Linked DNA regions of Homo sapiens: all the other regions are linked to region 2. Evidence: fine-mapped expression QTL. A gene starts in region 2. Each other region holds a variant in brackets. All regions are shown on one strand. Distances are between the middles of the regions. Region 1 has its middle 33 kb from the start of EFHC2. Region 2 holds the start of EFHC2 (EF-hand domain containing 2). Region 3 overlaps EFHC2 (EF-hand domain containing 2). Region 4 has its middle 25 kb from the start of EFHC2. Region 5 overlaps EFHC2 (EF-hand domain containing 2).

Evidence for each region. PIP is the estimated chance that this variant, and not a neighbour inherited with it, causes the effect.
Region 1: its variant is fine-mapped to the expression of EFHC2 in whole blood (TOPMed, PIP above 0.99).
Region 3: its variant is fine-mapped to the expression of EFHC2 in whole blood (TOPMed, PIP 0.98).
Region 4: its variant is fine-mapped to the expression of EFHC2 in prostate (GTEx, PIP 0.96).
Region 5: its variant is fine-mapped to the expression of EFHC2 in whole blood (TOPMed, PIP 0.98).

Annotation. Positions count from the first base shown.
Region 1 is chrX:44,373,267-44,379,834 of GRCh38, forward strand. No RefSeq gene overlaps it. Among named protein-coding and RNA genes, the nearest start is that of EFHC2, 33 kb to the left of the region's middle. The variant GT/G (reference allele first, on the strand shown) is at 2,943.
Region 2 is chrX:44,341,683-44,346,682 of GRCh38, forward strand. It overlaps EFHC2 (EF-hand domain containing 2), which reads right to left and starts at 1,990. Exons shown (of 15, transcript NM_025184.4): 1 at 1,865-1,990. The coding sequence starts at 1,906.
Region 3 is chrX:44,252,080-44,258,647 of GRCh38, forward strand. All of the region lies in intron 4 of EFHC2 (EF-hand domain containing 2), which reads right to left. Among named protein-coding and RNA genes, the nearest start is that of EFHC2, 88 kb to the right of the region's middle. RefSeq lists enhancers at 533-1,386, 1,387-2,239. The variant A/T (reference allele first, on the strand shown) is at 3,874.
Region 4 is chrX:44,365,868-44,372,435 of GRCh38, forward strand. No RefSeq gene overlaps it. Among named protein-coding and RNA genes, the nearest start is that of EFHC2, 25 kb to the left of the region's middle. The variant A/G (reference allele first, on the strand shown) is at 3,637.
Region 5 is chrX:44,143,567-44,150,134 of GRCh38, forward strand. It overlaps EFHC2 (EF-hand domain containing 2), which reads right to left. Exons shown (of 15, transcript NM_025184.4): 15 at 4,306-5,330. The coding sequence ends at 5,229. Among named protein-coding and RNA genes, the nearest start is that of NDP, 170 kb to the left of the region's middle. The variant G/A (reference allele first, on the strand shown) is at 3,944.

The DNA.
Region 1 (6,568 bases), 32 kb after region 2:
GGTTGGAGTTGGGGATAGGATAAGGCTGAGAATGTGATGATTTGACACCAAACTGAGAAGTGGCTTATAAGTGAGGCTAAGGAGTGAGGCTATTATTTATCAGCCAGTAGAGATCTACTCTATAGAATGGTAAAGGAAGGTAAAATGAGGCAGGTGGACAGGTTGGGAGATTATTACAAACATATGAGAACAGATGAGAAATAACAAGGGAGATTTGAAGTGAATATGGAAGACAAATTATATACATGAATGTTCAAAACTAAACAACAGATTGGATTTGGAAAATGAAAGAGAAAGACCCGAAGATAACTCAGATTTGGTGTCTGATGAAAGCATGAACAGTAGCATTAATAACAGAGACAGGAAAGTCATAAGGGAAACAAGTGTGAGATCAGTGTTGCCAAGAATTTTTCAATTGCCTGGTCTCACAACTTCAGAGTAAATGGCGGCTTCTGTTTTAAATAAACTGATTTTGAGATCGAGATTCCTTTCAGGAATTCACAAGAAACCAGCCAATCCTCAGGTCTTCCAGACTCAGCATTCTACTACAAATGGTTTCCAGACTGAACCAAAGGGTCCTGCTTCATAGATGCTGCCTAGAAAGAGTGATGGAGTGGTTAAGAGCCTGGACTCTGAAACCAGATTGTCTGAGTTTCAATCCCAGCCTCTATCCTCATGAGTAATGTGGTCTTGGACTGCTTACCTAGCCTCTTTGGGCCTCAGTTTCCTCATCTTTAAATGGAGATATTACCTATACCATAGTCTGAGGATTAAACTAAATAGTAAATGCTTAATAATTGTTAACTATCTTATTTCCTAAGGGAGGGAATAGAAAGAAAAGAGGGCTATGGATAGAATATCATGGAATGAACACATTTAAGGGGTGGGAGGTGGAAGGAAAGCCACAGAAGAAAGTAGAGAAGGGACAGAAAAACTGGAAGGTGGATAATAGAGTGCAGAGTCCTAGAAAGCAAAGAAAGAGAGTCTCTCAAGAAACAGGAAGGCAACAGCTTCAGACACTGCAGAGAGTTGAAGGTGAAAAGGCCACTGTATTTGCTAAGTAGGAGGTCCTTGTTGATCTTTAAGAGACCAGAGCCACTGGCCCATAGTACTTTCTTGTTACCTGGTTTGCCTTAAAGTAGTACAACTGTTAGCCCTTTGCTGCTTCCTCTGTGATCATGTTTGGTCAGTTTCTAAAAAGATGAAATATTGTGTAATGAGATATTGTCTGGCTCCACAGCAACAGCTAGAACAGTAATGCTCAACTTCAGATTTTCAAAATTCCAGGACTTGTGTTTTTATACAGTAATAATAATAATACAAACTCTCAATGATGATGATAATTACTAAAAATCAAAAGTAATATAATGCTCTACAGTTTTCAAAAAATTTTCAAGATCGTTCAGTTATATCTCAGAGTACCACAATTCGTAAAAGATTTGTGTCCCTCAAACACAAATATATTTGATCTATGAATTAAATAGATGCCTAATGATTCATTTAATATTATGCGATGATGGAGTTCAGAACACACTATCCCCAAAATATGGCACCTTGGCATGTTCAATGTTTTAAGCCGAAGGAATTTGAGAAACAGCAGGTACAGAAAGGACTGCTCAGGTTTAACAGTTTCTTTGGGTTTTTATTTCCTTACGAAGGTTCCATGTCACATAAAACTTACATTAAATACATTTGTGTGATTTTTTTCCTGTTAATTTCACTTTGTCAGTTCAGTTTTTAGACCCAGCCAGAGACACTAAGAGGGTGGAAGAAGTTTTTCCTCCCCTATGGTAAACAATCATCTCTGGGTCCCTGCTTTGTGTCACCTACTTAGGTATGCTTTGGGAATTGGTGGATCGTTAGATATAGTCTTGAACCTCAAAGTTCTGGAGAGAGAGAGAGAGAGAGAGAGAAGCCATCTTAATGTAACATGATCAGTATACAGAAGAGGTGGGCACAAAATACAACGTGCAAAGTGATAAAGGAAGGACCCACTTAGCCTGGCGGTGTTTAGAAGGCCTCTCTGAGTTTACAAATATCTTCTCCCATTCTGTAGGTTGTCTGTTTACTCTGCCGATAGTTTCTTTTGCTGTGCAGAAGCTCTTTAGTTTAATTAGGTCCCACTTGTCTATTTTTGTTTTTGTTGCAATCGCTTTTGGGGACTTAGCCAAAAATTATTTGCCAAGGCCAATGTTGAGAAGAGTATTTGCTAGGTTGTCTTATAGGATTTTATTTTCTTTTCCTTTTTTTTATTCTTTTTCTTTTCGAGACAGGGTCTTGTTCAGTTGCCCAGGCTGGAGTGCAGTGGCACGATCTTGGCTCGCTGCAACCTCCACCTCCCAGGTTCAAGTGATCCTTTCAGCCTCCTGAGTAGCTGGGACTACAGGCACAAGCCACCACACCCTACTAATTTTTGTATTTTTTGTAGAGATGGGGTTTTGCCATATTGCCCAGGCTGGTCTTGAACTCCTGGGCTCAAGTGATTCACCTGCCTCAGCTTCCCAAAGTGGTGGGATTACAGGTGTGAGCCACTGTGCCCAGCCAAGGATTTTTATCATCTGAGGTTTTTTATTTAAATATTTATCCATTTTGAGTTAATTTTTGTATATGGTGAAAGGTAGGAGTCCAGCTTCAATCTACATATGGCTATCCAGTTATCCCAGTACCATTTATTGAATAGAGGATCCTTTCCCCATTGCTTGTTTTTGTCAGCCTTGTGAAAGATCAGATGGTTGTAGGTGTGTGGCTTTATTTCTGAGTTTTCTATTCTGTTCCATTGGTCTATGTGTCTGTTTTTGTACCAGTACCAAGCTGTTTGGGTTACTGGGCTTTATATTATGGCTTAAAGTTGGATAGTGTGATGCCTCCTGCTTTGTTCTTTTTACTTAAGATTGCTTTGGCTATTCAGGCTCTTTTTTGGTTCTGTATGAATTTTATCATAG[GT/G]TTTTTTTTTCTAATTCTGTGAAGAATAACGTTGGTAGCTTGATAGGAATAGCATTGAATCTATAAATTTCTTTGGGCAGTATGGCCATATTTATGATATTGATTCTTCCAATCCATGAGCATGGAATGTTTTTTCATTTATTTGTGTCATCTCTGATTACTTTCAGCAGTGTTTTTTAGTTCTTCTTGTAGAGATCTTTTACCTCCTCGGTTAGCTATACTCCTAGGTATTTCATTTTCCAGAATTTATAGGGAACTTAAACAACATGCAAAAAAAAAACACCCAAATAACCCCATTAAAAATGGGTGAAGGACACGGACAGACACTTCTCAAAATAAGACATATCAGCAGGCAACAAACATATGAAAAAAATGCTCAACATCACTAATCATCAGATAAATGCAAATCAAAACCACAATGAGATACTATCGCACACCAATCAGAATGTTTATTATTAAAAAGTCAAAAAACAGCAGATGCTGGCAAGGTTGTGGAGAAAAGGGAATGCGTATACACTGTTGGTGGGAATGCTAATTAGTCCAGCCACTGTGGAAAGCAGTCTGGAGATTTCTCAAAGAACTTAAAACAGAGCTACCATTCGATCCAGCAGTCCCATTACTGGGTATCTACTCAAAGGAAAATAAGTTATTCTACCAAAAAGATACATGTACTCATATGTTCTTTGCTGCACTATTCACAATAGCAAAGACATGGAATCAACCCAAGTGCCCATAAATTGTAGATTGGATAATGAAAATGTAGTATATATACATCATAAAATCCCACACAGCCATAAAAAAGAATGAAATCATGTATTTTGCAGCAACATGGATGCAGTTGGAGACCATACTCCTAAGCGAATTAATGTGCGAACAAAAAACCAAATGTTCTCCCTTATAAGTGGGAGCTAAACCCTGGGTACACATGGACTTAAAGATGAGAACAATAGACACTGGGAACTACCAAAGCGGGGAGGGAGGGGGCAGCAAGGGTTGAAAAACTATCTATTGGGTACTATGCTTACTACCTGGGTGATGGGATCCATACTCCAAGCCTCAGCATCACACACTATTCCCATGTGACAAATCTGCCTATGTACCCTCTGTATCTAAAATAAAAGTTAAATTTTTTTTTACAAAAGAAGACTGCACTGAGGAGGAGACATCTGAAATAAATTTTGAAGGCTGATATGGTTTGGATGTTTGTCCCCTCCACGTCTCATGTTGAAATATGATCCCCAATGTTGGAGGTGGGGCCTAGTGGGAGGTGTTGGGGTCACGTGGCCAGATCCCTCACGAATGGCTTGGTGCCTCCTTGAAGTAATGAATGACTTCTAACTCAGTTAATTCATGCAAGATTGGGCTGTTTAAAAGCGTGTGGCACCTTCCCCTCTCTCTTGCTCTCACCCTTACCATATGACATGCTGGCTTCCCATCGCCTTCCACCATGATTGGAAGCTTGCTGAGGCTGCACCAGAAACAGATGCCAGCACCATGCTTCCTCTATAGCCTGCAGAACCGTGAGCCAAATAAATCTCTTTTCTTTATAAATTACCCAGGCTCAGGTATTCCTTTATACCTACGCAAGAACAGACTAACACAATGGCTGAGTAGAGATTTGCCAGGTGGGAAAGAGAAAAAAAGAAATCTCAGACATTCCTCTTTTTTAGAAAGTCTGGCAGGTGACTTGACAGGGAAACAGAATATTCCCAAAAGGTGGCAAGTGCCTATGGATTTTTTCATCAAGTCAGTTACAATATTCTAATACTTTAAGTTTAGACAGAAATGGCTGGCTTATTTGGGGGGAAATTTTAACTTCTAGCTATATTTTGTTTTGTAGGACTATGTATGTAACAATGAAATTTGTTTTTAAACGCCGGCTCTTCTGTGACTGGATATTTGCAGCACATCCAAGAGGAAAATATGCTAGGAGAGGGTATGAGAGTATTAAATAAGAATAATTTTCAAGTAAGGTTGTAAAAGCATCCAAACTGCTGTTGGAGGAGTGGGGGACCCCAAAGACTATCCTCAGTTTCCATAATTTGCTAGGAGGACTTACAGGACTCAGCATACCGTTATACTCATGGTGCGGATATATCACAGCCAAAAGACCCAAAGCAAAATCAGCAAAAGCAAAAGGCACATGGGGGTGAAGTCTGGAGGAAACCAGGAGCAAGCTTCCAAGAATCTTCACCCAGTGGAGTCACAAGGGATGTACTTGATTTCCCCAGCAATGAGTTCTGAAATGTCTACCAGGGAAGCTTATTAGAAATTCAGCACCCAGGGCTTTTCCTGGGGGGCTGGTCATGGAAGTACCCCTTGCCTGGCAGGTACCCAAATTCCAGACTCCCAGAAGGAAAGCAGATAGATGTTCAGCATAAACCGCATTGCTTGCATGAAGTTTAGGCACAGTGAGCCACTCTTACCAATTCTAGAAATGGTGGGAACCCTCCTGAAATTCAAGTTCTGGGATACCAGCTAAGAGCCAACCTTGTGAGCAAGCCTTTCTAAGGATAAGCAGTTAGGACTCTATGTTAACTCTTTACTGCACTGAGGTAACAGTTTATCTCATGGGTGCTTTTTTTTCTCTCCTCGTGGCTTGTGTCATTATTCCCATCTCTTAAGATCTAAAGCAAAGGCCTTTTAGTAAAATGAATCAACATATATTTGGGCCTTGAGGGTGTGTGTGTGTGTGTGTGTGTGTGAGAGAGAGAGAGAGAGAGAGAGAGAGAAAGAAGGATCGGAAACGGTGTAATCCCAGCACTTTGGGAGGCCAAGGTGGGTGGATCATTTGAGGTCAGGAGTTCGAGACCACCCTCGCCAACATGGTGAAACCCCATCTCTACTAAAAATATAAAGGAAAAAATTAGCCAGGTGTGATGGCGGGTGCCTGTAATCCCAGCTACTTGGGAGGCTGAGGCAGGAGAAGCGACTGATCCTGGGAGGTGAAGGTTGCAGTGAGGTGAGATCACGCCACCACACTCCAGCCTGGGTGACAGAGCAAGACTCCATCTCAAAAAAAAAAAAAAAAAAAAAGGGAGAGAGAGAGTGAGTGAGTGAATACTTAAAATAGTCATCATAATTGAAACAGCCTAAGCATTTTGGGTTGCAGATGTCTGTCTGAAGTCTTTCCTTTATGGCTAATACATTTTGAAGCCCTTACCCAGATGAGTAATTACAAGAAAGTGCAGTGGCCCACTGTTTCTGTTTTAAAATCATTCCCCACCCATTAGAATTTGCTTCAGCTGCTTTTAATATCAATTTTTATATGCAGGTACTTAGTAAAATAACAAAAATAAAAATACACCTCTGGGCAACATTTCTTCTTCACTTCAGTCACTTTTTTTTTTTAAGTCCACACCTCATCTGTTGTGTGTGGAATTGCAACTACATTTTTAGTACTGAGTTTGCGTATGGGTCTGATTTTTACCTCTTTTTTTCTTTGCTGTGTAGTTGATGTGTCTGTAACATACAATCCTATATAAAGCAAAGTCAAAGCTTCCAAGGCAAAGAAATATTTGAAATCAATCATAATCACATCTTATTCAAATAAGGCTCTTACTTCCTGAGAATTCTTCTATATCATCTGGTGCCCAAATCTTGCAGATCAATGGCCTTCAACTTT
Region 2 (5,000 bases):
CAAGGGATCCTCCCATCTCTGCTTCCCAAAGTGCTGGGATTACAGGCGTGAGCCACTGCGCCCAGCCCCCATATTTAATTTCTTGATATTCATTTTGTGATCATCCATTGTGCATCTTTCTGTATATGTGTTGTACTTCATGATCTTAAAGTTTTTTAAAAAGCAAAAATATACGCAGAACCTTGCAGATTTATTAATATTTCATCCATCCACTGTTTTTCCTTCCCATCCTTAATCACTGCACGTGAGAGCTATGATACTTCTGCAGGAGGCAGGCACTGGTAATCAGAGTGTTGCTGGGCAAAAAGCTGTAGGCTTTACTTTCATTTTTTATTAAAATTACTTTTACACAGCATGCTTCTTTACTTCTGGAATCTGTTTTCATGTCCCGTCTCTCAGGGGCCTTTCTTGTTTGCGTGACTGGCTTAAACTTACCAAAGGGCAATGCTATGCTGGAAGGCCAGCCTCTGCCCATCAACCAAGAAATGCACAAATCAGTGTTCAAAGTTGGACTGACCAGACGTGTAGGGGTCAGAATTCAATGGCGTGAAGCTACAAAGAAAAAACTTGTACTTCAGGGCCAACAACTTAGATACAGACAGTGTTTGGAAACCATAAAGCCAAATACTTCAATCTGCTGCCTGCTTTCTAAAGTTATCAAAGGTTTACACAATTGCCTTGAGTGGCTCCATCTAATTCCCTCCCATCTAATTGGGAATTAGCTTCTCCTGCAGACACAGATGGCTGACCCAAGTGAAGGGTAGTAACCAGTATAAACAAAAGCCTGAATCATTTTCCTGCTGTCGTTTAAATGAGGTGCTATTTATTGGCAAAAGTTCTTTCATGCTCAGGGTTTTTTGTGTTGTGTTGCTTTGTTCTGTACGTTCATCTTCTTTTGAAATGAACCCCTCCAGGACAGGCGCAGTGGCTCAGCCTGTAATCCCAGCACTTTGGGAGACCGAGGCGGGCAGATCACTTGAGGTCAGGAGTCCGAGGCCAGCCTGGCCAACATGGTGAAACCCCATCTTTACTAAAAATACAAAAATTAGCCGGTGTGGTGGCGGGCGCCTGTAATCCCAGCTACTCGGGAGGCTGAGGCAGGAGAATCGCTTGAACCTGGGAGGTGGAGGTTGCAGTGAGCCGAGATCGGGTCACTGCACTCCAGCCTGGGCGACAGAGCGAGACTCCGTCTCAAAAAAAAAAAAAGAAATGAACCCCTCCCAATTATAAATAGAGAAAAAAAAAATCCCTCCAAGTTTGGGTGCCTGTCTCTATAAAGTTTGGGAGTAAACTTTACAGGCTGATAGAACTCTTATCTGCCACCTACCCCTCTTGATAAGTGCCAGATTTCTTCAATTTGATAATTGAAACGGTATCTTTTTTCACACAGGATACTGGGGATAATGATTAGGCTCCTGAGCTGTGGAGACAAGGTTGCTTGAAAGAAACCCAGCTTCACCACTGAGACTGTGTGGTTCTGTGCCTCAGTTTCCTCAATAGTAACTGGGAATAAAAACTACCTAATTCAAAGGGCTGTTGGGACACTGGATGCTGCATAAGGTGATTAAAGCACAGCGCCTGGCACACATTAAACCCCCAATGGTTATCGTCACTATTATTTGTTACCTTTGAGGGTCCTGCCACCTATAAGGACTCTCTCTATATATTTCTAAATTAGGAAAAACATTCAGATGCAGCTGGAGAGATGGGAGAAGCAGCCTATAAAGTTTGGTCCAAGTTGCCACCAACCCAGGGCAGCAGCATGGGGCCTCCAGGAGAGTCTGCGGAGGTGGCCACGCCACGACCCTGCCTGGACCCCAGACTCCAGCCGGGAGCTGTGACCTCGGACGCCCTTCCTACTCACGTTGCGGTTGAAGCTGTTGCCCGGCAGCAGAGGCAGGGCCATGGCGCTCAGTGTCCGAAAATCCAGGGTCCCAGAAGAGAGGGCCCGGCAGGCAGCGGCGCCTCCCGGCCGTGTTGTTTGGCCCCCACGTTGCCTGGAGACGGGAAGCGGCGTCACGGAGGGAGGAGGGGCGGGGGGTTGGCGAGAAGGATCGTGGGGGGCGGGGGACACCTCCGCGGCGCGTACCTCCTCCCCAGCCCCAGTTCCCCTCCACCCGCTTCATCCCCGCACACACTCAGCCAGGTCCTGGTCTCCTGAGGAGTCTTCTCTCTGCACACGCAGTGTGCACACACAAAGATTGACTGTTCCCTGCCCCCGCCGCTTTCTGGTTTAACCCCCTTATAGAACTCAAAGCCTTTCTTGTACTTTCTTGCTTTTCCAATTCTTGTCGCCAACAGTTTTTTGCTATGTGGTTCAAACACACAGCAAAGTACAGAAAGTAATATGACGCCCGTGTGCTCACTGAGATGTTACACAAGTCGATATTTTCCTATGTTGCATAGACATCAGCTTTTATTTTGTAATTAAAACGTTCAAGATGAATCTAAAGCCACATATACCCTGACGAAAACGCGTTGTAATGGTAACCACCGCCTTCAGTTTTTCTTCTGGATATTTTTATATTTGTTGTTTGTTTGTTTGTTTGTTGTTTTAAGACAAGGTCTCACTATGTTGCCCAGGCCGATCTCGAACTCCTGGGCTCAAGCAGCCCTCCCGCCTCTGCCTCCCAAAGTGCTGGGATTACAGGTATGAGCCACCGTGTCCGGCCCATTTTTGTATTTGAACTAAACGTTTGTAAGGCCCAATCAGGGGTGGCCGGGGCGGAGTCAGGTGTCACAAATCGCAACCCCTGTCACTCCATCGTTCACCCCAAGATAGCCGGGCCAGGAACCTCCTCTCCCGACACCTACGTCTAATCCCTCCCTGAAGCCCTAAAGGTTGGACTCGATGCTCTCTCTCAGTCACCACCTCGTCTATTTCAGCTGCGATCCCATTGTTTCTTGCCTGGTTTTCTTCTTTAAAAAGAAAAACAAACACACACAAAAAACTAACTGATCTTGCCTCCAGAGCCGTCGTTTTTATAATTCATGGTGCAGCTGTTACTCTTCTGCTTCAATAATCTAGCCTTCCCGCCGCCTTCAGAAGGTGGTGAAACTCCTTATAGCCTGGTCTGAGGAGCTTTTGTCAGAGGGCACCTACCAATGCCCTCCATCCCTTTCTTTGCCCCCTCCTCCATCTACTCCAGCTCTGAGAAACCACTGGCAGTTTCTAAATCAGGCTCTGCGGTTTCTCCTCTTGGGGCTTTTGCAAATAACACTATCGTCTAGAAACACCCTTCCTTCCTATCTTTCACATAAGTAACCCCTTCTTGTCTTTCAGGACTTGAGGCCAGCGTGGGAGTGGGGCATAGAAGGTATTGCCATTTCTTCAATATATTCTTTCACCTTCTTCCTGCCGCCTCCATCTGTATTTGGTGTCTATTCTGATCGTGGCTTTCATCCTACTACATTGTAATTACCTGTTTACTTGACATTTCTTTAAATGCCCCCAAATACCTCCAGGGCAGGGACTGTATCTCCTTTTTTATTCATCAACAATATCCATTATTGCTTCTGTGTTTATAAATTTTACACTCTAAATTTCTGCTACTTGCTTTTTTTGCCTGATTCTGTTATTGAGGCCAGGCGCGGTGGCTCATGCCTGTAATCCCAGCACTTTGGGAGGCCGAGGCAGGCGGATCAAGAGGTCAGGAGGTCGAGACCAGCCTGGCCAACATAGTGAAACCCCGTTTCTACTAAAAATATTAGTAGAATATTAATATGCTACTGGGAGGCTGAGGCAGGAGAATCGTTTGAACCGGGGAGGCTGAGGTTGCAGTGAGCTGAGATTGCTCCACTGCACTCCAGCCTGGGCAACAGAGCAAGACTCTGTCTTGAAAATAATAATAATAAAATTCTGTTATTGAGATTTCTACACATTGACACATGTAGTGTTCATTAATTTTAAACGCATTGTATGATTATACCACAAATTGTTTAACTATCTGCTCTCATCTGTTGATGACAATTAGATTGTTTCCAATTTTCCACTAGTTACCAACAATGCTGCAGTGAGCGACTCTGCCTGTTCCTTTGGCAATGATCTAGGGCACATACTGAAAGATGGAATTACGTACATATCTGAGTGCATGGCTTCATCTTTACTAGATTTTGCTAGATGATCTACAGACAGATAAACCAATTAAGAAAGTCCCCTTCCCCGTTCATCCTTTCAACAATAGGTATTACCAAATTATATAATTTTGGATAATCATCTGAATAAGTGTGAATGGTATACTATTGTTATTTTAATTTGTTTCTCCCTAATTCTCCCTAAGCAGTTGGTCATGTTTTCCCATGGTTGTTACTTTCTCCTGTGACTCAGCTATTCATATCCTTTGCAGATTTTTCTCTTCGGTCATTTGTAGTTTTTTTTTTTTAGATAGATAGATAGATATAGAGATATTCTGGATACTAATCCGAGGCATAGCAAATATTTTCTCATTGTCGTTTGTCTTTTAACTCCACTTATATAGAGTTCTTTATTGTACATAAATTTGTTACTTTACTCAAATATATCATTCTTTCAGTTATGGTTGGTGGGTTTTTTGATTTATTCTACTTTTTATTTTTTGAGATGGAATCTCACTCTCTCACCTAGACTGGAGTACAATGATGTGATCTAGGCTCACTGCAACCTCCGCCTCCTGGATTCAAGTGATTCTCCTGCCTCAGCCTCCTGAGTAGCTGGGATTACAGGCATGCACCACCACACCTGGCTAATTTTTGTATTTTTAGTAGAGACGGGGTTTCACCTTGTTGGCCAGGCTGGTCTCGAACTCCTGGCCTCAAGTGATCCACCCACCTTGGCCTCCCAAAGTGCTGGGATTGCAGGCATGAGCCACTGCACCTGGCCTGTTTGGTGTTTTGTATGTGAATTCAAAAATCTTATACTACTCCAAAAGAACAGTTATTCTCCTACATGTTCTTACAAACATTTTTAAAATTCCCTGTTGCTTTTTAAATTGAAATAATTTCAAGCTAGTAAAAAGTTGCAA
Region 3 (6,568 bases), 89 kb before region 2:
AAGGATAAGAATGCCCCGGAGAAACAGGAGCACAGCAAATGGAGAAGGTCTTAAGGTCTGCAGAGCCTCTGCCTCGGCTGTCCTCTGTCCCAGGAACCACTAGTTAGTTCCATAGTCTTCTTGATGCAACTCTTCCCTCTATTTGCACTTTCGCAGCCCTGTCGTGGAGTTAAACTGCCCCCATTTCATCTGATGTAACCAAATAGGACTGTTATATAAGGAAGTGCACACTGACAAGGGAGATGTTATCCCAAATCAGGTTATACAATCTTTTTGTAAATTTTTGAAATTTCTATCTGTCGAGGGCAGTCTAGGTGCAGTCTTAACCCAAGACAGTGGGGAGACATGATGGCTTTCCAAAGACTCTTCAGTCTTATCTCTGATATTTAAATGAAATTATGGGACCACTATTTCAATTGATTGAAAAATGTTTCTTTGGCATTATGAGGCCTCTAAGAAAAGCATTATTGATAATATATGGGATTCTTTTCAGTCTAAGTTAAATTGTTTAATTTTAACTTTACAGTTCAAGACAGCAAACACTGCAGAAGTAAATGTATGAAAGTCAATATAGAAGCCTCTTATTAAACTCCTAATTTCCCAAAGATTACTATATTTATTGAAGAATTTTCTCCCTGAGGGAATAAATGCTAAAATGATGTTCCTACTCTGAAAGGAAATTATTTAAAACATTTCTTAGCTGTTCTTGGTATTTATTCTCAATTCCTGGCACAAAAGATCTTTTTCTGGGGGTGGCTGGCAAGATGGCCGAATAGGAACAGCTCTGGTCTGCAGCTCCCAGCGAGATCAATGCAAAAGGAGGGTGATTTCTGCATTTCCAACTGAGGTATCCGGCTCATCTCATTGGGACTGCTTAGACAGTAGGTGCAGCCCACGGAGGGCGAGCTGAAGCAGGGTGGGGCATCGCCTCACCCGGGAAGCACAAGGGGTCAGGGAACTCCCTCCCCTAGCCAAGGGAAGCCGTGAGGGACCGTGCTGTGAGGAACAGTGTACTCTGGCCCAGATACTATGCTTTTCCCATGGTCTTTGCAACCCTCAGACCAGGAGATTCCCTCAAGTGCCTACACCACCAGGGCCCTAGGTTTCAAGCACAAAACTGGGCAGCTGTTTGGGCAGACACCAAGCTAGCTGCAGTTTTTTTTTTTTTTCATACCCCAGTGGCGCCTGGAACACCAGTGAGACAGAACTGCTCACTCCCCTGGAAAGGAGGTGGAAGCCAGGGAGCCAAGTGGTCTAGCTCAGTGGATCCCCCCAGCAAGCTAAGACCGATGGCTTGAAATTCTCGCTGCCAGCACAGCAGTCTGAAGTCGATCTGGGACGCTGGAGCTTGGTGGGGGGAGGGGCGTCCCCCATTACTGAGGCTTGTGTAGGCGGTTTTCCCCTCACAGTGTAAACAAAGCTGCCAGGAAGTTGTAACTGGGCGGAGTCCACCACAGCTCAGCAATGATTTTGTAGCCAGACTACCTCTCTAGATTCCTCCTCTCTGGGTAAGGCATCTATGAAAGAAAGGCAGCAGCCCCAGTCACAGGCTTATAGATAAAACTCCCATCTTCCTGGGACACAGAACATGGGGGAAGGGGTGGCTGTGGGCACAGCTTCAGCAGACTTAAACGTTCCTCCTGCCAGCTCTAAAGAGAGCAGCAGACCTCCCAGCACAGTGCTCGAGCTCTGCTAAAGGACAGATTGCCTCCTCAAGTGTGTCCCTGACCCCTGTGCCTCCTGCTAGGAGACACCTCCCAGCAGGGGTTGACACCTCTTAAAGGAGACCTCCGACTGGCATCTGGAGGGTGCCCCTCTGGGACGAAGCTTCCAGAGGAAGGAACAGGTAGCAATCTTTGCTGTTCTGCAGCCTCCACTGGTGATACCAAGGCAAACAAGGTCTGGATTGGACTTCCAGGAAACTCCAGCAGACCTGCAGCAGAGAAGCCTGACTATTAGAAGGAAAACTAACAAACAGAAAGGAATAGCATCAACATCAACAAAAAGGATGTCCAAATGAAAACTCCATCCGAAGGTCAACAACATCAAAGACCAAAGGTAGATAAATCCACAAAGATGAAGAAAAACCAGCACAAAAAGGCTGAAAATTCCAAAAAACCAGAACACCTCTTCTCCTCCGAAGGATCACAACTCCTCGCCAGCAAGAGAACAAAACTGGACGGAGAATGAGTTTGATGAATTGACAGAAGTAGGCTTCAGAAGGTGGGTAATAACTAACTCCTCTGAGCTAAAGGAGCATGTTTTAACCCAATGCAAGGAAGCTAAGAACCTTGAAAAAAGGTTAGAGGAATTGCTAACTAGAATAACCAGTTTAGAGAAGAACATAAATGACCTGATGGAGCTGAAAAACACAGCACGAGAGCTTTGTGAAGCATACACAAGTATCAATAGCTGAATCGATTAAGCAGAAGAAAGGATATCAGAGATGGAAGATCAACTTAATGAAATAAAGCGTGAAGACAAGATTAGAGAAGAAAGAATGAAAAGGAACAAACAAAGCCTCCAAGAAATACGGGACTATGTGAAAAGACCAAACGTACGTTTGATTGGTGTACCTGAAAGTGATAGGGAGAATGGAACCAAGTTGGAAAACACACTTCAGCATATTATCCAGGAGAACTTCCCCAACCTAGCAAGACAGGCCAACATTCAAATTTAGGAAATACAGAGGAAACCACAAAGATACTTCTCAAGAAGAGCAACCCCAAGACACATAATTGTCAGATTCACCAAGGTTGAAATGAAGGAAAAAGTGTCAAGGGCAGCCAGAGAGAAAGGTCGGGTTACCCACAAAGGGAAGCCCATCAGACTAACAGGAGACCTCTCTGCAGAAACCCTACAAGCCACAAGAGAGTGGGGGCCAATATTCAACATCCTTAAAGAAAAGAATTTTCAACCCAGAATTTCATATCCAGCCAAACTAAGCTTCACAAGCAAGGGGGAAATAAAATCCTTTACAGATAAGCAAATGCTGAAAGATTTTGTCATCACCAGGCCTGCCTTACAAGAGCTCCTGAAGGAAGCACTAAATGTGGAAAGGAAAAATCAGTACCAGCTGCTGCAAAAACATACCAAATTATAAAGACCATTGATGCTATGAAGAAACTGCATCAATTAATGGGCAAAATAATCAGCTAGCATCATAATGACAGGATCAAATTCACACATAACAATATTAACCTTAAATGTAAACAGGCTAAATGTCCCAATTAAAAGACACAGACTGGCAAATTGGATAAAGGGTCAAGACACATCAGTGTGCTGTATTCAGGAGACCCATCTCACATGCAAAGACACACATAAGCTCAAAATAAAGGGAGGGAGGAATATTTACCAAAAAAATGGAAAGCAAAAAAAAGCAGGGGTTTCTATCCTAGTCTCTGATAAAACAGACTTTAAACCAACAAAGATCAAAAAAGACAAAGAAGGGCATTTCATAATGGTAAAGAGATCAATGCAACAAGAAGAGCCAACTATACTAAATATATATGCACCCAATACAGGAGCACCCAGATTCATAAAGCAAGTCCTTAGAGACCTACAGAGAGATTTAGACTCCCACACAATAATAATGAAAGACTTTAACACCCCACTGTCAATATTAGACAGATCAACGAGACAGAAAATTAACAAGGATATTCAGGACTTGAACTCAGCTCTGGACCAAGTGGACCTAATAGACATCTACAGAACTCTCCACCCCAAATCAACAGAGTATACATTCTTCTCAGCACCACATCACATTTATTCTAAAGTTGACCACATAATGGGAAGTAAAACACTCCTCAGCAAATGCAAAAGAACGGAAATCATAACAAACAGTCTCTCAGACCACAGAGCAATCAACTTAGA[A/T]CTCAGGATTAAGAAACTCACTCAAAACCGCACAATTGCATGCAAACTGAACAACCTGCTCCTGAATGACTACTGGGTAAATAACAAAATTAAGGCAGAAATAAATAAGTTCTTTGAAACAAATGACAACAAAGACACAACATACCAGAATCTCTGGGACACAACTAAAGCAGTGTTTAGAGGCAAATTTATATATTTAGTGCTTATAAGCACTAAATGCCCACAGGAGAAAGTGAGAAAGATCTAAAATCAACACACTAACATCACAATTAAAAGAACTAGAGAAGCAAGAGCAAATAAATTCAAAAGCTAGCAGAAGGCAAAAAATAACTAAGATCAGAGTGGAACTGAAGGAGATAGAGACACAAAAAACCCTTCAAAAAATCAAAGAATCCAGGAGGTGGTTTTTTGAAAAGATCAACAAAATAGATAGACTGCTAGCCAGACTAATAAAGAAAAAAAGTGAGAAGAATCAAATGGACACAATAAAAAACGATAAACAGGATATCACCACTGATCCCACAGAAATACAAACTACCATCAGAGAATATTATAAACACCTCTATGCAGAAAATCTAGAAGAAATAGATAAATTCCTGGACACATACACCCTCCCAAGACTAACCCAGGAAGAAGTCAAATCCCTGAATAGACCAACCAATAACAAGTTCTGAAATTGAGGCAGTAATTAATAGCCTACCAACCAAAAACAGCCCAGGACCAGATGGATTCACAGCCAAATTCTACCAGAGGTACAAAGAGGAGCTGGTACCATTCCTTCTGAAACTATTCCAAACAATAGAAAAAGAGGCACTCCTCCCTAACTCATTTTATGAGGCCAGCATCATCCTGATACCAAAACCTGGCAGAGACACAACAACAACAACAACACAAAAAGGAAATTTCAGGCCAATATCCCTGATGAAGATTGATGCGAAAATCCTCAATAAAATACTGGCAAACCAAATCCAGCAGCACATGAAAAAGCTTATCCACCAAGATCAAGTCAGCTTCCTCCCTGGGATGCAAGGCTGGTTCAACATATGCAAATCAATAAATGTAACCCATCATATAAACAGAACCAATGACAAAAACCACATGATTATCTCAATAGATGCAGAAAAGGCCTTCAATAAAATTCAACACCCCTTCATGCTAAAAACTCTCCATAAACTAGGTATTGATGGAACGTATCTCAAAATAATAAGAGCTATTTATGACAAACCCACAGCCAATATCATACTGAATGGGCAAAAGCTGGAAGCATTCCCTTTGAAAACTGGCACAAGACAAGGATGCCCTCTCTCACCACTCCTATTCAACATAGTATTGGAAGTTCTGGCCAGGGCAAGAGAAAGAAATAAAGGGTATCCAAATAGGAAGAGAGGAAGTCAAATTGTCTCTGTTTGCAGATGACATGATTGTATATTTAGAAAACCCCATCATCTCAGCCCAAAATCTCCTTAAGCTGATAAGCAACTTCAGCAAAGTCTCAGGGTACAAAATCGATGTGCAAAAATCACAAGCATTCCTGTACACCAATAATAGACAGACAGCCAAATCATGAGTGAACTCCCATTCACAATTGCTACAAAGAGAATAAAATACCTAGGAATACAACTTATAAGGGATGTGAAGGATCTCTTCAAGAACTACAAACCACTGCTCAAGGAAATAAGGGAGGACACAAACAAATGGAAAAACATTCCATGCCCATAGATAGAAGAATCAATATCATAAAAATGGCCATACTGCCCAAGGTAATTTATAGATTCAATGCCATCTCCATCAAGCTACCACTGACTTTCTTCACAGAATTAGAAAAAAACTACTTTACATTTTATATAGAACCAAAAAAGAGCTCGTATAGCCAAGACAATCCTAAGCAAAAAGAATAAAGCTGGAGGCATCACACTACCTGACTTCAAACTATACTACAAGTTTACAGTAACCAAAACAGCATGGTACTGGTACCAAAACAGAGATATAGACCAATGGAACAGAACAGAGTCCTCAAAAATAACACCACACATCTACAACCAACTGATCTTTGACAAACCTGACAAAAACAAGCAATGAGGAAAGGATTCCTTATTTAATAAATGGTGTTGGGAAAACTGGCTAGCCATATGCAGAAAACTGAAACTGGACCCCTTCCTTACACCTTATACAAAAATTAATTCAAGATGGATTAAAGACTTAAACATAAGACCTAAAATCATAAAAACTCTAAAGAAAACCTAGGCAATACCATTCAGGACATAGGCATGGGCAAAGACTTCATGACTAAAATACCAAAAGCAATGGCAACAAAAGCCAAAATTGACAAATGGGATCTAATTAAATTAACAAGCTTCTGCACAGCAAAAGAAACTATCATTAGAGTGAACAGGCAACCTACAGAATGGAAGAAAATTTTTGCAATCTATCCAACTGACAAAGGGCTAATATCCAGAATCTACAAGGAACTTAAACAAATTTACAAAAAAAAAAAAAATCAAAAAGTGGACAAAGGATATGAACAGACACTTCTCAAAACAAGACATTTATGCAGCCAAGAAACATATGAAAAAAAGTTCATCATCACTGGTCATTAGAGAAATGCAAATCAAAACCACAATAAGATACCATCTCACGCCAGTTAGAATGGCGATCACTGGGAGGCCGAGGCAGGTGGATCACGAGGTCAGGAGTT
Region 4 (6,568 bases), 25 kb after region 2:
ATTACCTCACATACTTTGAGGTAGGAACACTTCAAATGTACTCTCTTAGCAATTTCAGCAATTTCCAAGTATACAGTGCTTTGTTATTAACTATAGTCACCATGTTGTACAATAGATCTCTTGAACTTACTCCTCCTGTCTAACTGAAATTTTGTATCCTTTGACTATGTAATAATTTTAATATAAAAAGTGGACAACCCGAATAAACCAATAACTATTGAAGAAATGTAAAAGGTAACCAAAAATATGCAAAAACGCTACCATGTCCAGAAGGTTTGATGAGAGATGTCTCCTAGCTCTTTAAAGAACAGGTTCTCTCTTGTTATACTGTTAAAGAACTTACAAATCTATCATTTCCAACTCTCTGTGATGCCAACTAGCAAAATCCTAACATGAGTACCAGACAAAAAGAGAAAAAATGGAAGGAAGGGAAGGAGTGGAAAAGGGAAAGAGAAAAGTTAACGAAGAAAAGAGTAAGAAAAAAGCTACAAGTCAATCTCACTTATAACATAGATGCTAAAATCTTAAATAAAATATTAGAAAATTGAACCTGGGTCAGGTGCAGTGGCTCATGCCTGTAATCCCAGAACTTAGGGAAGCCAAGGTAGGCGGATCACTTGAGGTTAGGAGTTCAAGACCAGCCTGGCCAACACTGTGAAACCCTGTCTCTACTAAAAATACAAAAATTAGCTGGGCATGGCGGTGTGCAACTGTAGTCCCAGCTACTCGGGAGGCTGAGGCAGGAGAATCGCTTGAACCTGGGAGGTGGAGGCTGCAGTGAGCTGAGATCACATCACTGCACTCCAGCCTGGGTAACAGAGGGAGACTCTGTCTCAAAAATAAAATAAAATAACTGAACCTGGCAACATACTGGATGAATAATACCTCATAACAAGGAATAGAAAAGAAAATCCCCACAAGAGTATTTTAGGCTTTAGAAGAATTTAATAAAGGAAGAACTCAAGGCAAGGTGGTAAAGCAACAAAATAAGATAGACGTGGGGCTAAAGAAAAACTATGTACATGCGATGTATTTAATAAATGTACAGAACAAGAACTATGCTTTCATTTCTGGCAATATTATACAATAGCTATCCTTTTAAACACTAGGAGGCATGTATAAAGCCTGGATTCAAAAAGCAATAAATTCCTTTTAAATAGATAGCTGAGTTTGATGAAAGTAAGGAAACTCGTAGGATCCAAAAATGTAGAGGATACTGAGAATCAGAGTAGTGAGCAGGCAATGATGGTGTCAGCTGCTCTACCCCAGGTTAGTTTCTCAACCTCAGTAACTAGGACACTACTAAAGTCTATAGGCTGCAGGAGCAAGAAAGACGCCCGGGGCCCAAACAAGGCTGGGATCCTACAAGGGCTACACTCTGAGTGGAATGGCACCCTAAGATGCACTCCCCACACCAGCAATGGCGATACAGCCATGCACTACGTAACAACATTTCAGTCAATGCCAGACTGCATATATGACAGCGGTCCCATAAGATTATAATAAAGCTGAAAAATTATTATTGTCCTAGTGACGCAGTAGCCATCGTGATGCCATAGCACAATGCATTACTCACATGCCTGTGGCGATGCTGCTGTAAACACACCTACTGCGCTGCCACTTGTATAAAAATCCAGCACATACAATTATGTACCGTACCTAAAACTTGATAATGATAATAAATGACTATGTTACTGGTTTGCGGATTTACTATACTATAAAATGATTTTATTGTTATGTTAGAGTGTACTCTTTCTACTTATTGAAAAAAAAAAGTTAGCTGTAAAACAGCCTCAGGCAAGTGATTGAGGAGGTATCCAGAAGAAGGTATTGTTATCACAAGAGTCGACAGCTCCATGCGTGTTATTGACCCTGAAGATCTTCCAGTGGGACAAGAATTGGAGGTGGAAGACAGTGACATGGATGAGCCTGACCCTGTGTAGGCCTAGGCATTAGCACACATTAGTGTGTGTGCCTATGTCTCCATTTTTAACAAAAAAGTATAAAAAGGAAAAAAATCATTTATAAAAATTTTAAATAGAGAAAACCTCATAGAACAAGGATGTAAAGAAAGAAAATATTTTTGTATAGCTGTACAATGTGTTTGTGTTCTAAGCTAAGTTTTATTATAAAAGAGTCAAAAAGTTTAAAAAATGAAAAAGTTGGCCAGGCGCGGTGGCTCATGCCTGTAATCCCAGCACTTTGGGAGGCCAAGGCAGGTGGATCACCTAAGGTCAGGAGTTCAAGACCAGCCTGGCCAACATGGTAAAACCCCGTCTCTAGTAAAAATACAAAATTAGCCGGGCATGATGGTGCATGCCTGTAATCCCAGCTACTCAGGAGGCTGAGGCAGGAGAATCACTTGAACCTGGGAGGCAGAGGTTGCAGTGAGCCGAGATCGTGCCATTGTACTCCAGCCTGGGCGACAAGGGTGAAAATCCATCTCAAAAACAAGGAAAATGAAAAAAAAAGTTTATAAAGTAAAAGAGTTATAGTAAGCTAAGGCTAATTGATTATTGAAGAAATAAAAAGAAATTTTTTTTTTTTTTTTGAGACAAGGTCTTGCTCTGTCACCCAAGCGATCTTCCTACCTCAGCCTCCTGAGTAGCTGGGACTACAGGCGCCCATCTCATTTCTATACATTTTGTGGAGACAGGGCTTTCGCCATGTTACCCAGGCTGGTCTCAAACTCCTGGGCTCAAGAAATCCTTTCACCTTGGCCTCTCAGAATGCCGGGATTACAGGCGTGAGCCACTGTGCCCAGCCAAGAAAAAATATTTTTATAAACTTAGTGTGGTCTAAGTGGACAGTGTATATAAAGTGTACAGTTGTGTACAGTAATGTCCTAGGCCTTCACATTCACTCACCACTCGCTCACTCACCAGGAGCAACTTCTGGCCCTGCAAGCTCCGTTCACGGTAAGTGTCCTTTACAAGTGTATCTTTTTTTATCTTTTATACCATATTTTTACTATGTATTTTCTATGTTTAGAAATACAAATACTTACCATTGTGTGACAGTTGTCTACAGTATTCAGTAGAGTCACATGCTGCACAGGTTTGTAGCCTAGGAGCAATAAGCTATACAATATAGCCTAGGTGTGTAGTAGGCGATACCATCTAGGTTTGTGTTAGGACACTCTATGATGTCCGCACCCTATCACCCTAATGATGCATTTCTCACAACCTATCCCTGTTGTTAAGCAACACATGACTGTATAAAGATGCTTAATTGACTTGGACTGGCTTAAGTTGGGAAATAAATCTCCCATTACCCATAGGCCTGCCCTCGTGCAGGTCAAGGTTAGAATATTTATTTTCACCTGCTGCAACCTCTCTGACAAAGGTTACAAATGAACCCCTGATTGTCAAACCCAATGGACATTTTACTGTCTTTTTTTTTTAAGACAGTGTCTCACTCTGTCACCCAGGCTGGAGTACAGTGTCACGATATTGGCTCACTGCAACCTCCACCTCCCAGGTTCAAGCGATCCTCCTGCCTCAGCCTCCCAAGTAGCTGGGATTACAGGTGCATGCCACCACTCCTGGCTAAATTTTGTATTTTTAGTAGAGACAGTGTTTCACCTTGTAGGCCAGGCTGTTCTTGAACTCCTGACCTCAAGCGGTCCACCTGCCT[A/G]GGCCTCCCAAAATGCTGGGATTACAGGCATGAGCCACTGTGCCTGGCCCAGACATTTACTGTCTTTACCTTCTAGATTGTCCTGAAGCAGTTGACACTGGGGTCCACTAGTTCCTCCTAGAAAGTCCCTAGTGCCCCAGCTTCAATAGCATTGCACTCTCTGGGGCCTCTTTTCATGACCCCTGAATGTTATTTCTGTGTCTCCTTCACGCTCCTCTCTCAATCTCCCTGATTCTCATCCTCAGTCTATAACTTCTTAACATGCTCTCTGATTGATACGACTTGACCTCATGCACTTAACCATAAGTGCTTCCTAATCTATGCCCTAGCCCAGAAATGTCCCCTAAGCTTTAGAATCAATAGGGCTCAAAACATGCTACCCCAAAGTATGGCACCTTGGCATATTGAATATTTTAAGCTGAAAGAATTTGAGAAACAGCAGGTACAGAAAGGACTCTCTGACCTTCCCCTGAAGCAGGTCTGAAGACCCTCATGTGAGAGGTGCCCTCCCTAGACCTAGAAGAAAGAGGCATCCTTATCTCCGAAGATGGGACACCAAGAAGAATCCAAATGAACAGGCCTTGCTAAATTTCCCCCGGTTAACTATCCTTAGCTTATACCGCTTTATCTTATCACACTTTTTCATGACTCTTCACTCTTTATCACACCAGTATAAAGATGCTCAGGTTTAATGATTTCTTTGCTCTTCATTTCCTTCTGAAGACTCTCATGTCATATAAAACTTATATTTAGTTAATATGTATGCTTTTCTCTTGTTAATCTGTCTTTTGTCAACCTAATTTATTGAGCCCCAAACAGAGAACCTAGGAGGGTAGAAGAAAAAAAATATTTTTTCCTCCCCTACAGAATACCCCATCCAAATTCCTGCTGCATGGGCCCGCTTGGGTGGTCCATTGGCCCCTGTAATCCAAAAAGTCCAAAACAGTGCTCATTACACTTTCCCCTGAAATTTATCTCCTGTCTTTCATCTCAGCAAAAGACACACAACCAGAAACCTGAGGATGAACCTATGGCTCTCCTCTCACCCTCCACAGCAATCAAACACCAAGCCCTGGTAATTCCACCCACTAAAATATGCTTCAAACCCACCACTCATTTCTCTACTCCTGCTTTCATTGCTTTAATTCAATCTAAGAATCGTAGCAAAAGACCTCCCAAGCGGTCTCAGCTTCTAGTCTTGCCTGCCTCGCATCCATACCTGGTACCACCTGAATGATTTACCTAAATTGCAAATCTGACCACGTCACTTTCTTTTTCACAACCCTTCCATGGTGCCTCATTTCCTGCTAAGCTCCCTAGCATGGCATGGCTGGCTTGGAGTAGCGAAGAAGCCCTTCTTGAGCTGGCCTTTGGACACCTCTCTAGTATCTTTCCATACTGACTATACCCAGCACTGTACCTATACTGACTGTATCTATCCACAAAATGTATAGAAATGAACTGGGCGCCTGTAGTCCCAGCTACTCAGGAGGCTGTGGTGAGAAGATCGCTTGGGTGGCAGAGCAAGACCTTGTCTCAAAAAGCACGTTATTCACCAGTAATCCTAGCGAGGCTTGCAGTGAGCCATATAAACCACGTCGTTTCTTATCTCTAACCCTTCGCTCATGCTGGAACCTCTGCCTTTCCTGCCCCCAGCCTCCTGGTCAATTACTATTTGTCCTCCTTGTCATGCCAGGGCTCTCTCTTCTAAGAGACCTCCTCCTCTGTTCCCATTGTCCCCTGTGCATACTGCCAGCATACATGTTTTGTCCATGAATATGTTTTTCTCTCCAGCTGAGCTAAAAAGTCCTTGAGGGAATAGACCCCATCCTGTTCAACGTTGCATCTTAGCATATAGTAGAAACTCAATAGGCTTTTGTTGTCTGAATTGAATCTGAAACACAGAGAGTAAAATTTTTTAAATCAAGTAATGACATAATTGATTTTATAAAAATGAGAAATGCTCTTTATTTTTAAAAACTCAAGAAATACATCAAAGTACAAATCCCCCAGAGTCTCATCAGGTGGAATTAGCCAATGTCAACAGATCCAATGATGGATATAGAGAATATAACACATCCAGACACCCCGAAGTAATTTCATAAGAATACAGTTGGACTAGACATGCTATGTCTAACAAAACATATGAAATTTAATAATAGTTTAATTTAACTTGAGAAAAAAACCTGAAGTGAATCTGCAGGAATTTTCTGAACCATCCATGAAGTGTTCCTTCACCACAAGCAATATTAGCAAGTTTTAAAAGTGATTCAAACTCCCAGGCAAATGATCTGCACTTGGCAGAGTAGTTAACAACTTCAATTATTGTGTAACTTTGGGATTGGCTAGGGAGTTCCCAGGAGGATGGAAAAGTTTTACCTAGAGACAAAATGTATTGAGTCAAGCAATAGGGAGTTCAAAAACAATTATTATTAAGAGTCTCACTGTTTTTTTAACTTCACGAAATTGGTTTTCATTACTTTCACTCTTGGTTCAATAAAAAGGCTTTTAAATTGGATGTTTTTTTAGAATTTAATAAGCTCCTTTAAAGTGATGCAAATATTTCTTAAATCCTGAAATAAGCTTTCCACTGCATTCAGATGTGCCCAACTGAAAAGTTAATTCCAATCAATGGCATTTAACAGATGTACCTAATTGAAGGATTACTTAGTGGGCACTTTACAGCATGCAATCTAAGAGAACCACCACCCCCGCTTTTCAGGAACTTACAATCTGGTAGAAATGTGTTCATTCCTCCCTTAAATATTTTTCACAAAAGATGACAGTGTGCCTGGTATTATGCAATGCGTGATGGTTGTGATGTCTATGTCTTACCTAAAGTAAGTGGAGGGTTAAGAGGTTACTTTGAATTGATACAGTCATGGAACTCAAACAACTTATCTGTTAAGCCTCCATCATTATGCCTTCCTCC
Region 5 (6,568 bases), 200 kb before region 2:
GTATACTTAAATATGTGCAGTTCACTGTTAAGTCAATAAAGCTGGTTTTTAGAAAGTTATTACTGTTAGTAATATGCCAGGCACTATGGTTCTCAGACAACATGCCTCCCCTGGGTAATCTTATCCGAACTCACAATTACCATCCATACTCTGATGATTCCCAAATATGCATCTCCAGCCCAGGCCATTCTGCTGAGATTCAGACCTGTTAATCCAGCTGCCTTAACATGGCCACTTATCAGTTCCGCAAGCACCCTAATTCAGCATGCCCAAGGCAGAATTTTTGATATTCTCCCTTCACTTGATTTTTCTCTCATGTATCCCAGCACAATGAAAGGCAACACCATCTATCCAGCTGTGAAAATGACCCAGTCATAATTTTGATTTCTTCTCCCTCATCTCCAACATCCCAAATGCATCGTGAATCCCTCCACTTCTCACCAACATTACATTAATCCAAACTACCCATCACTTCTCTGGCAACAGTCTCCTAATCAGTCTTCTTGCCGCCAAACACACTCTTAGAGTTCACACACACAAAGCAGCCAGAGATTTTTAAATACAGACATGATCTTTCCATTCCCCAGATTAAAATATTTCAGAAACTTCTCATTCCCTTGGGATGAAGTGCAAACTCTTCAACATGAGTCACACACAAGGTGGTCCCTATTTTTGTCCCGACTCCCCTCTAAAATGGTCATCTTTTGCCACTTCCCTTCTCACTCTCCTAGCTCCAGTCATAGTTAAAACTGGGGGTATTCGCAGGCGCCTGAAATGGCCGTTCAGCTCCTGTTCTTTATTCAACGGGTGGCCTCACAGCAATAATGACCAGTGGTAGCACAGGAGAAAAAAGCAGGCAAAAGTAATGTTATCAAGTTCCTATTTCAGTCAGAGGTTCTTGTTGTATAGGCAAAGTAGGAAAAAAGAAACACAAAGATGACTTTGGTGGAAGTATTTCTAAAGGAGAATGCATTTTTATGTTTTCACCAAGCTATCAGCTCCTCTGGATTTTAATATTATAGTGGGGTCATAACAAGCTTTCCTCTATTGTTGGCTTTACACAGATGCAAAGTGGTGCTCAGGAAGCTAGGAGACTGATGAATAGTGGGTTTGATGTATTTGAATCATTCAGCACTTTGAGTTAAATGTGCATATTCTGTTCAAAATAGACAATGGGGAGGGGCAGTCCCCCCTTTCCCTCTCTAACTTGCATAACATCAGGCCTCACTGCTTTAACTAATGAGTATTTAGAAGTAAAGGCTCCTACTGATTCCAGCGAGTCATTAATTCTCTGCTTGCAGAGCCACTGTGGAGTTTTTCATCGGCCACATTTTTTTAGCTTTTACCAAGTTGCTTCTGAGCAGCAGTGCTGACCCCGGGCTCCTGTGTGTACCACACACCAGACACATAATGGGCTTGAAAGTCCCCTTGCAAGGAATTTTACTGGGGACCAGGAACAAATTACAAAGAAGATGCATATTCTAGCCACTCTGTTGACAAAGATGTCTCAGAACTCTTAGTTTTAGGGAACTTAATTGACCTTGAATGAAAATGTATATTTAAACCAATATGTATAACCTGGTAGAATAAGCGGAGGAGGTGAGTTACAAAATTCTCTTAAACTAATTGCACAGTCAGCCCTACCCTTTGTAATAATGAATGTTTGCTCCATTATCGCTCCAGGTTTATTATTTTCTAAACAGCCTCATTGATCTTGCCTCAGTGGGCTTTCCATTTTTACACATTACATTCTCTTGGGAATTGAAAAGCACGGTGTCTCTGAAGATGCTCAGTCAACTTGAAAACACTCATTTTTGAAAAGGTCTTAACCTGCCTTCAACTTGAAGCAATTCAGACTTTGCCCAAACAAACATTAGAGCAGAGACACATCACTCGTGTATATGTTTCTACCATCACTGGGAAGCTGTTTGTCTGAAAGGTCATTTACAGACCGTTTTTTAGGGTATTGAAAATTCAGGGATCTATACTCATAACTAAAATGAATGTACATGTAATTGAGAGCATGGCACTTTATTATAATGGATTCTGCATTATTCAATATCATAAATATTTTGTGGAAGGCCCTATTTCGTTATGACTCCAACTACTAAACTTATAGCAAAATCATAATGTGTGGTGGAAGGGAAAGGAGAAAGAAGAAATAAATAGAAAAGGCTAGGAAGCAACCCCAACTCAAGATAAATTCCAGTTGGAAAGGCAAGAGTTTTGTGTTTTGTATTGATTTGAGATTTCATTTTACTCATCAATAATGCCCTATTTGAAAGAAGGAAGGGCAATTTAAATATTCTAAACTCATGACTGAGGGGTCCATAAAGCCTGGAAGCTCTATGACTCCAAATAATCAAACTTCAAATACTCTAGCGTTTAAAAAAAAAAAAATAACAAGAATAGTATATTTGTCAGTAATTGAACCAAAGGCAATACAGGAAATAAAGTAGGCAAAATGTTTAAACTATTATAATGCTTGAAAGTTACAAATCTCCCCTCTGTTGTCTAAAATTTTAACCATTTTAGTAAACTTAAGCTAAAGTAAACCAACAGACTTACCCACATTACTTTTCAAGTGGTTAGGTAAAAAAGGTAATAAAAGGCAAATAAGTACTGCAAATTAATCCTCTGCTGGCGACATCATACCTCACAACAGTGCCTCAGCAAACCACTTAATGTGAACTTCAACAGCTTTTAATCAGTTTTGTATGAAAAGACATGATTTGATTTGGGTTTTCAAATGGCTTTATCAATCATTCCCACAGTTCCAAGAATACTAAATAACAATTAGTTCTTAGGACAAAAGGTTTGCCTATATTAACCTTCAACTCACCCAGACATCCAAAGGTGGCACTTGCTTTTTCATCAAAATGAGATCATGTTAGCAGCTGAAAATATAAGTATATGGAAAGGTTGTGAAACTTCTTTCAAATTATTACCCTGGAACAATGACAATAGTTGGGATTTCTCTTTTGCAGAGGGAAGAGAAGAGGCAGAAATTCCAGTCCTCCTCCCCCCAAAATTTTAGTCTCGGGATTTATTTGTGCTGAAAGCCAGAGTTATCTACTGCTTGAAACCTAAGCAGAATGCATCAGCATTTCAGGACCACCTGGGACCAAGGGGGGCTGGGAGACTTCCAGATGGATTGTAAGACAATTCACTGATATTTACATAACGAGAATAAATGTTTTTCCTAAGATAGCATTTCCCTTCAGTGTCTTGAGACCACCAGCAAAAGAGGGAGGTACAGAAATTCTATTACATTAATAGTCTTTGTTTTTATGGCTTTGGCATTTATTAACTAGTGGGAGCTGTTTATTGGGTCATAAACTTTACTAATGGGGATATTATCTCTAAATTATAAATCTTGTCCAGTATATGGCTTAGTTATAAAAAGAATGATTATTTAAAGTGTCTGTATGGCTGCAACGTATCATGTTTATCGGCATGAATCCTATAATGGCCATTTCATTGCTAATTGTGGGCTTGAACCAGAAACAACCAGGGCAGTAACACACATCTATGCAATAGAATAAGCAGTTGTCACCCCACAACTCAGGAGCATTGTCATTGGTTTGCTTCCTTTCTTTTTCTCCCCCCACTTCTCAAATGAACTACATTATGAGCCTCTACAAGGGCTAAATTATCTACGTATTTAAACTCTTGAAGGAAAGACAACTGACTGAAGAGTTGAATAGGTAAGTGACGAATGTGTCAGCTTGAAAAGTTCCAGGAAAGTGTCATCCTTCTAAAAGCCTGCTCTCTGGGGAATGAAAAATCTTAAAGTGACAAAATGGCTTGGCACTGTCAGTTGCCTTAAAAAAAACCTGGGACAAAAATCAAGTAGTCAAATTTAGGATTTATGGTAGATAGTTTTAGTATATAAATTGAGTATACTAGTTTAGTGTTAAGTCCTGAAAGGGTTGGGAGGAGC[G/A]TCTATTCTAACAATAGCACATGTGGAATTATCCTAGGCTTACATATAGAAATCGTTTATTGATTAACTCCAATTTTTTAAAAATGAAAGGGCCATTGTTGTGGAGAATAAATTGGTACATTTGAGTGCCAAGAAGCCAGCAAGACACTGCTGCAAATGTGGAGTGAAAGAATAATGAGTCCGAAGGGTCCCTTGAGATGTCATCAGCTCTTCTTTTTCTCAGGGTAGTCCCTGAAAGGTAAATGGTGCAGCTCCTTTTTGAGACCTCCATTGTCTCCCAGAACACCAGGCAAATGGATTTATGATACATAGCATCCAACACTGAACAATGGCATAGACTGGGATAGACTTCTTACACTGAATTCCCAGAGGTACATGGCTATGGGTTTTAATCAAATGTACACTACATGACAAGAGTTCTGCTGAAGAAAAATAAAAATAGAACTAGAAAAATGCAGGGGAAAAATGTTGTAGTTTCTGAATATTTAAACCTCTAGGGTGGGGCGCGTGGGATGTGTGTGTAAAACAAACCAAAAAAAAAACAAAAATCTCAAAATCTTCAGCTTTCACATTTGTAAATATTTTAGACATAATAAAGTTTTGGTCAAACTATAATTATACACACATGCATATATTCCTAAGCTAACAAGCTGACTTTAGATAGAAAAAAGGGCATTACAAATATAAATACTGCATATGTTTCCAGTGTGTGTGCACGTGCGTGTGTGTGTGTGTGTGTGTGTGTGTTGGAGGTTCTTTTTCTTCCCATAGCTTTACTAAGTTCAAAAGATAAATATATTTACTCTAGAGAGGTTTAAGAATTATTTTGATGAGGTGGGTTGCTACAAAACTTAATTATGTAAGTAATAAACGTGTCAAAAAGGTTTCAAAAATGTTTAATAGAATCACAACTTATTGCTGTGATATAATTTGATTTTGTATTGTCATGTATAACCTTCAAAAGTCATTTTCTGTTCATATAGTAATGAATCAAATTATGTTGGATCAAAAATTATCAGAAGATTTTTTGGTATTAATAAACCATACATATAATAAAAATATTCAACATGTTTTAAGATGGCATTTTAAATAGTAACAGTACGTCGGCAATGTAACATGATGTTCTGTAAAACTAACATGACAAAATAGGATTAATTGTGGTTTATGGATTTCCATTTAATATAAACCTTGTTTCTTTTTTGTTTTTAATGAAATTATATCTACTAAAGTAAATGTGGCAAAATGAGAGAAGTAAATCATAGAGAATTGACCAAAACTGGCATGGTTATTCCTCCTCTAAGCCAAACGCGTCCTTCAAAAAGGTCCAGTAGTCAATGTATTTCGCAGGAATAGGTGATGGCATACCAAGCCAAACATCTTCACATCTCTAGAAAAAAACCAAAAATGGATATGATTAGAACCACATTTCAAAGTACAGTTTTGAAAATTCAACACCAGTTTATTTGCAAAGTGAAAATTTCTACCATCTACTTTAGGTTCATAAGGACTTTGTGGTCTACTGGATACTTGTTCTTGATTCTTCATTCCCTCCCTGTATAAGAATTATGTGCCCACACTCTTTGTCATATGACTCTGTAGAACCTCCTGTGGAGTAAGAAGGGTATATTTTCCTGTTCCTTTGATATGGGGTTGGCCACATGACTGGCTTTGACCTATGTACTATTAGCAGACATATCATGGACAGAGGCTCTAGCGTGCTGGCATCATTTGGCTTGGCCTTCTGTGCCTCTGCCATCACCATGAAAAGAACATGGCCCAGGATGCTGCTGTTCTTAGAATGACCAAGGTGGATCAGACCAGGCTGGACTTGCGGACTAAGAGCCAAGCTTAGCTGAATCCAGCCATGCTTCACTGACCTACATGCCCATAGACAAGAAAAAGAAATGTGTCTTGTTGTGAACCATTGAAATTTAAGGAGTTGTTATGCAGCATGAATACGCTGATAGATCCTCCTATACTTTCTTAAGAACCCAATTTTTATTTTTATTTTATTATTTTTTTTAAAGACAGGGTATCACTTTGTTGCCCAGGCTGGAGTACACTGGCACAATCTCTGCTCACTGCAACCTCCAACTCCCGGGTTCAAGTGATTCTCATGCCTCAGCCTCCCGAGTAGCTGGGATTACAGGCACATGCCACCATGCCCGGCTAATTTTTGTATTTCTAGGAGACGGGTTTCGCCATATAGGCCGGACTGGTCTGGTCTCAAACTCCCGGCTTCAAGTTATATGTCCACCTCAGCCTCCCAAAGTGCTGGAATTACAGACGTGAACTGCTGCCTAAAGAACCCAATTTTTAAAATACAAACTGGTATCTATACTGGCTGATTGGTTACTGTTTCTTCAGTAAACAATGAAAAGAACACTGGATCACTCACAGTATGATCTTGCAGATAAGCCACTTTATTTGTGTGTGTGTGTGTACACATATACACACACAGATGCACATTTTATATAATACATAAATACGTGTATATACACACACACAAACTTTTTGCATATGCCTCAATGGTTAATTAATATCAACAGGAGGCAAAGTTCATACATATGGTTGCTTATATTTCTACTTTCAAGGTTAAAATATGACTGTCAAGGTTAATTGTTG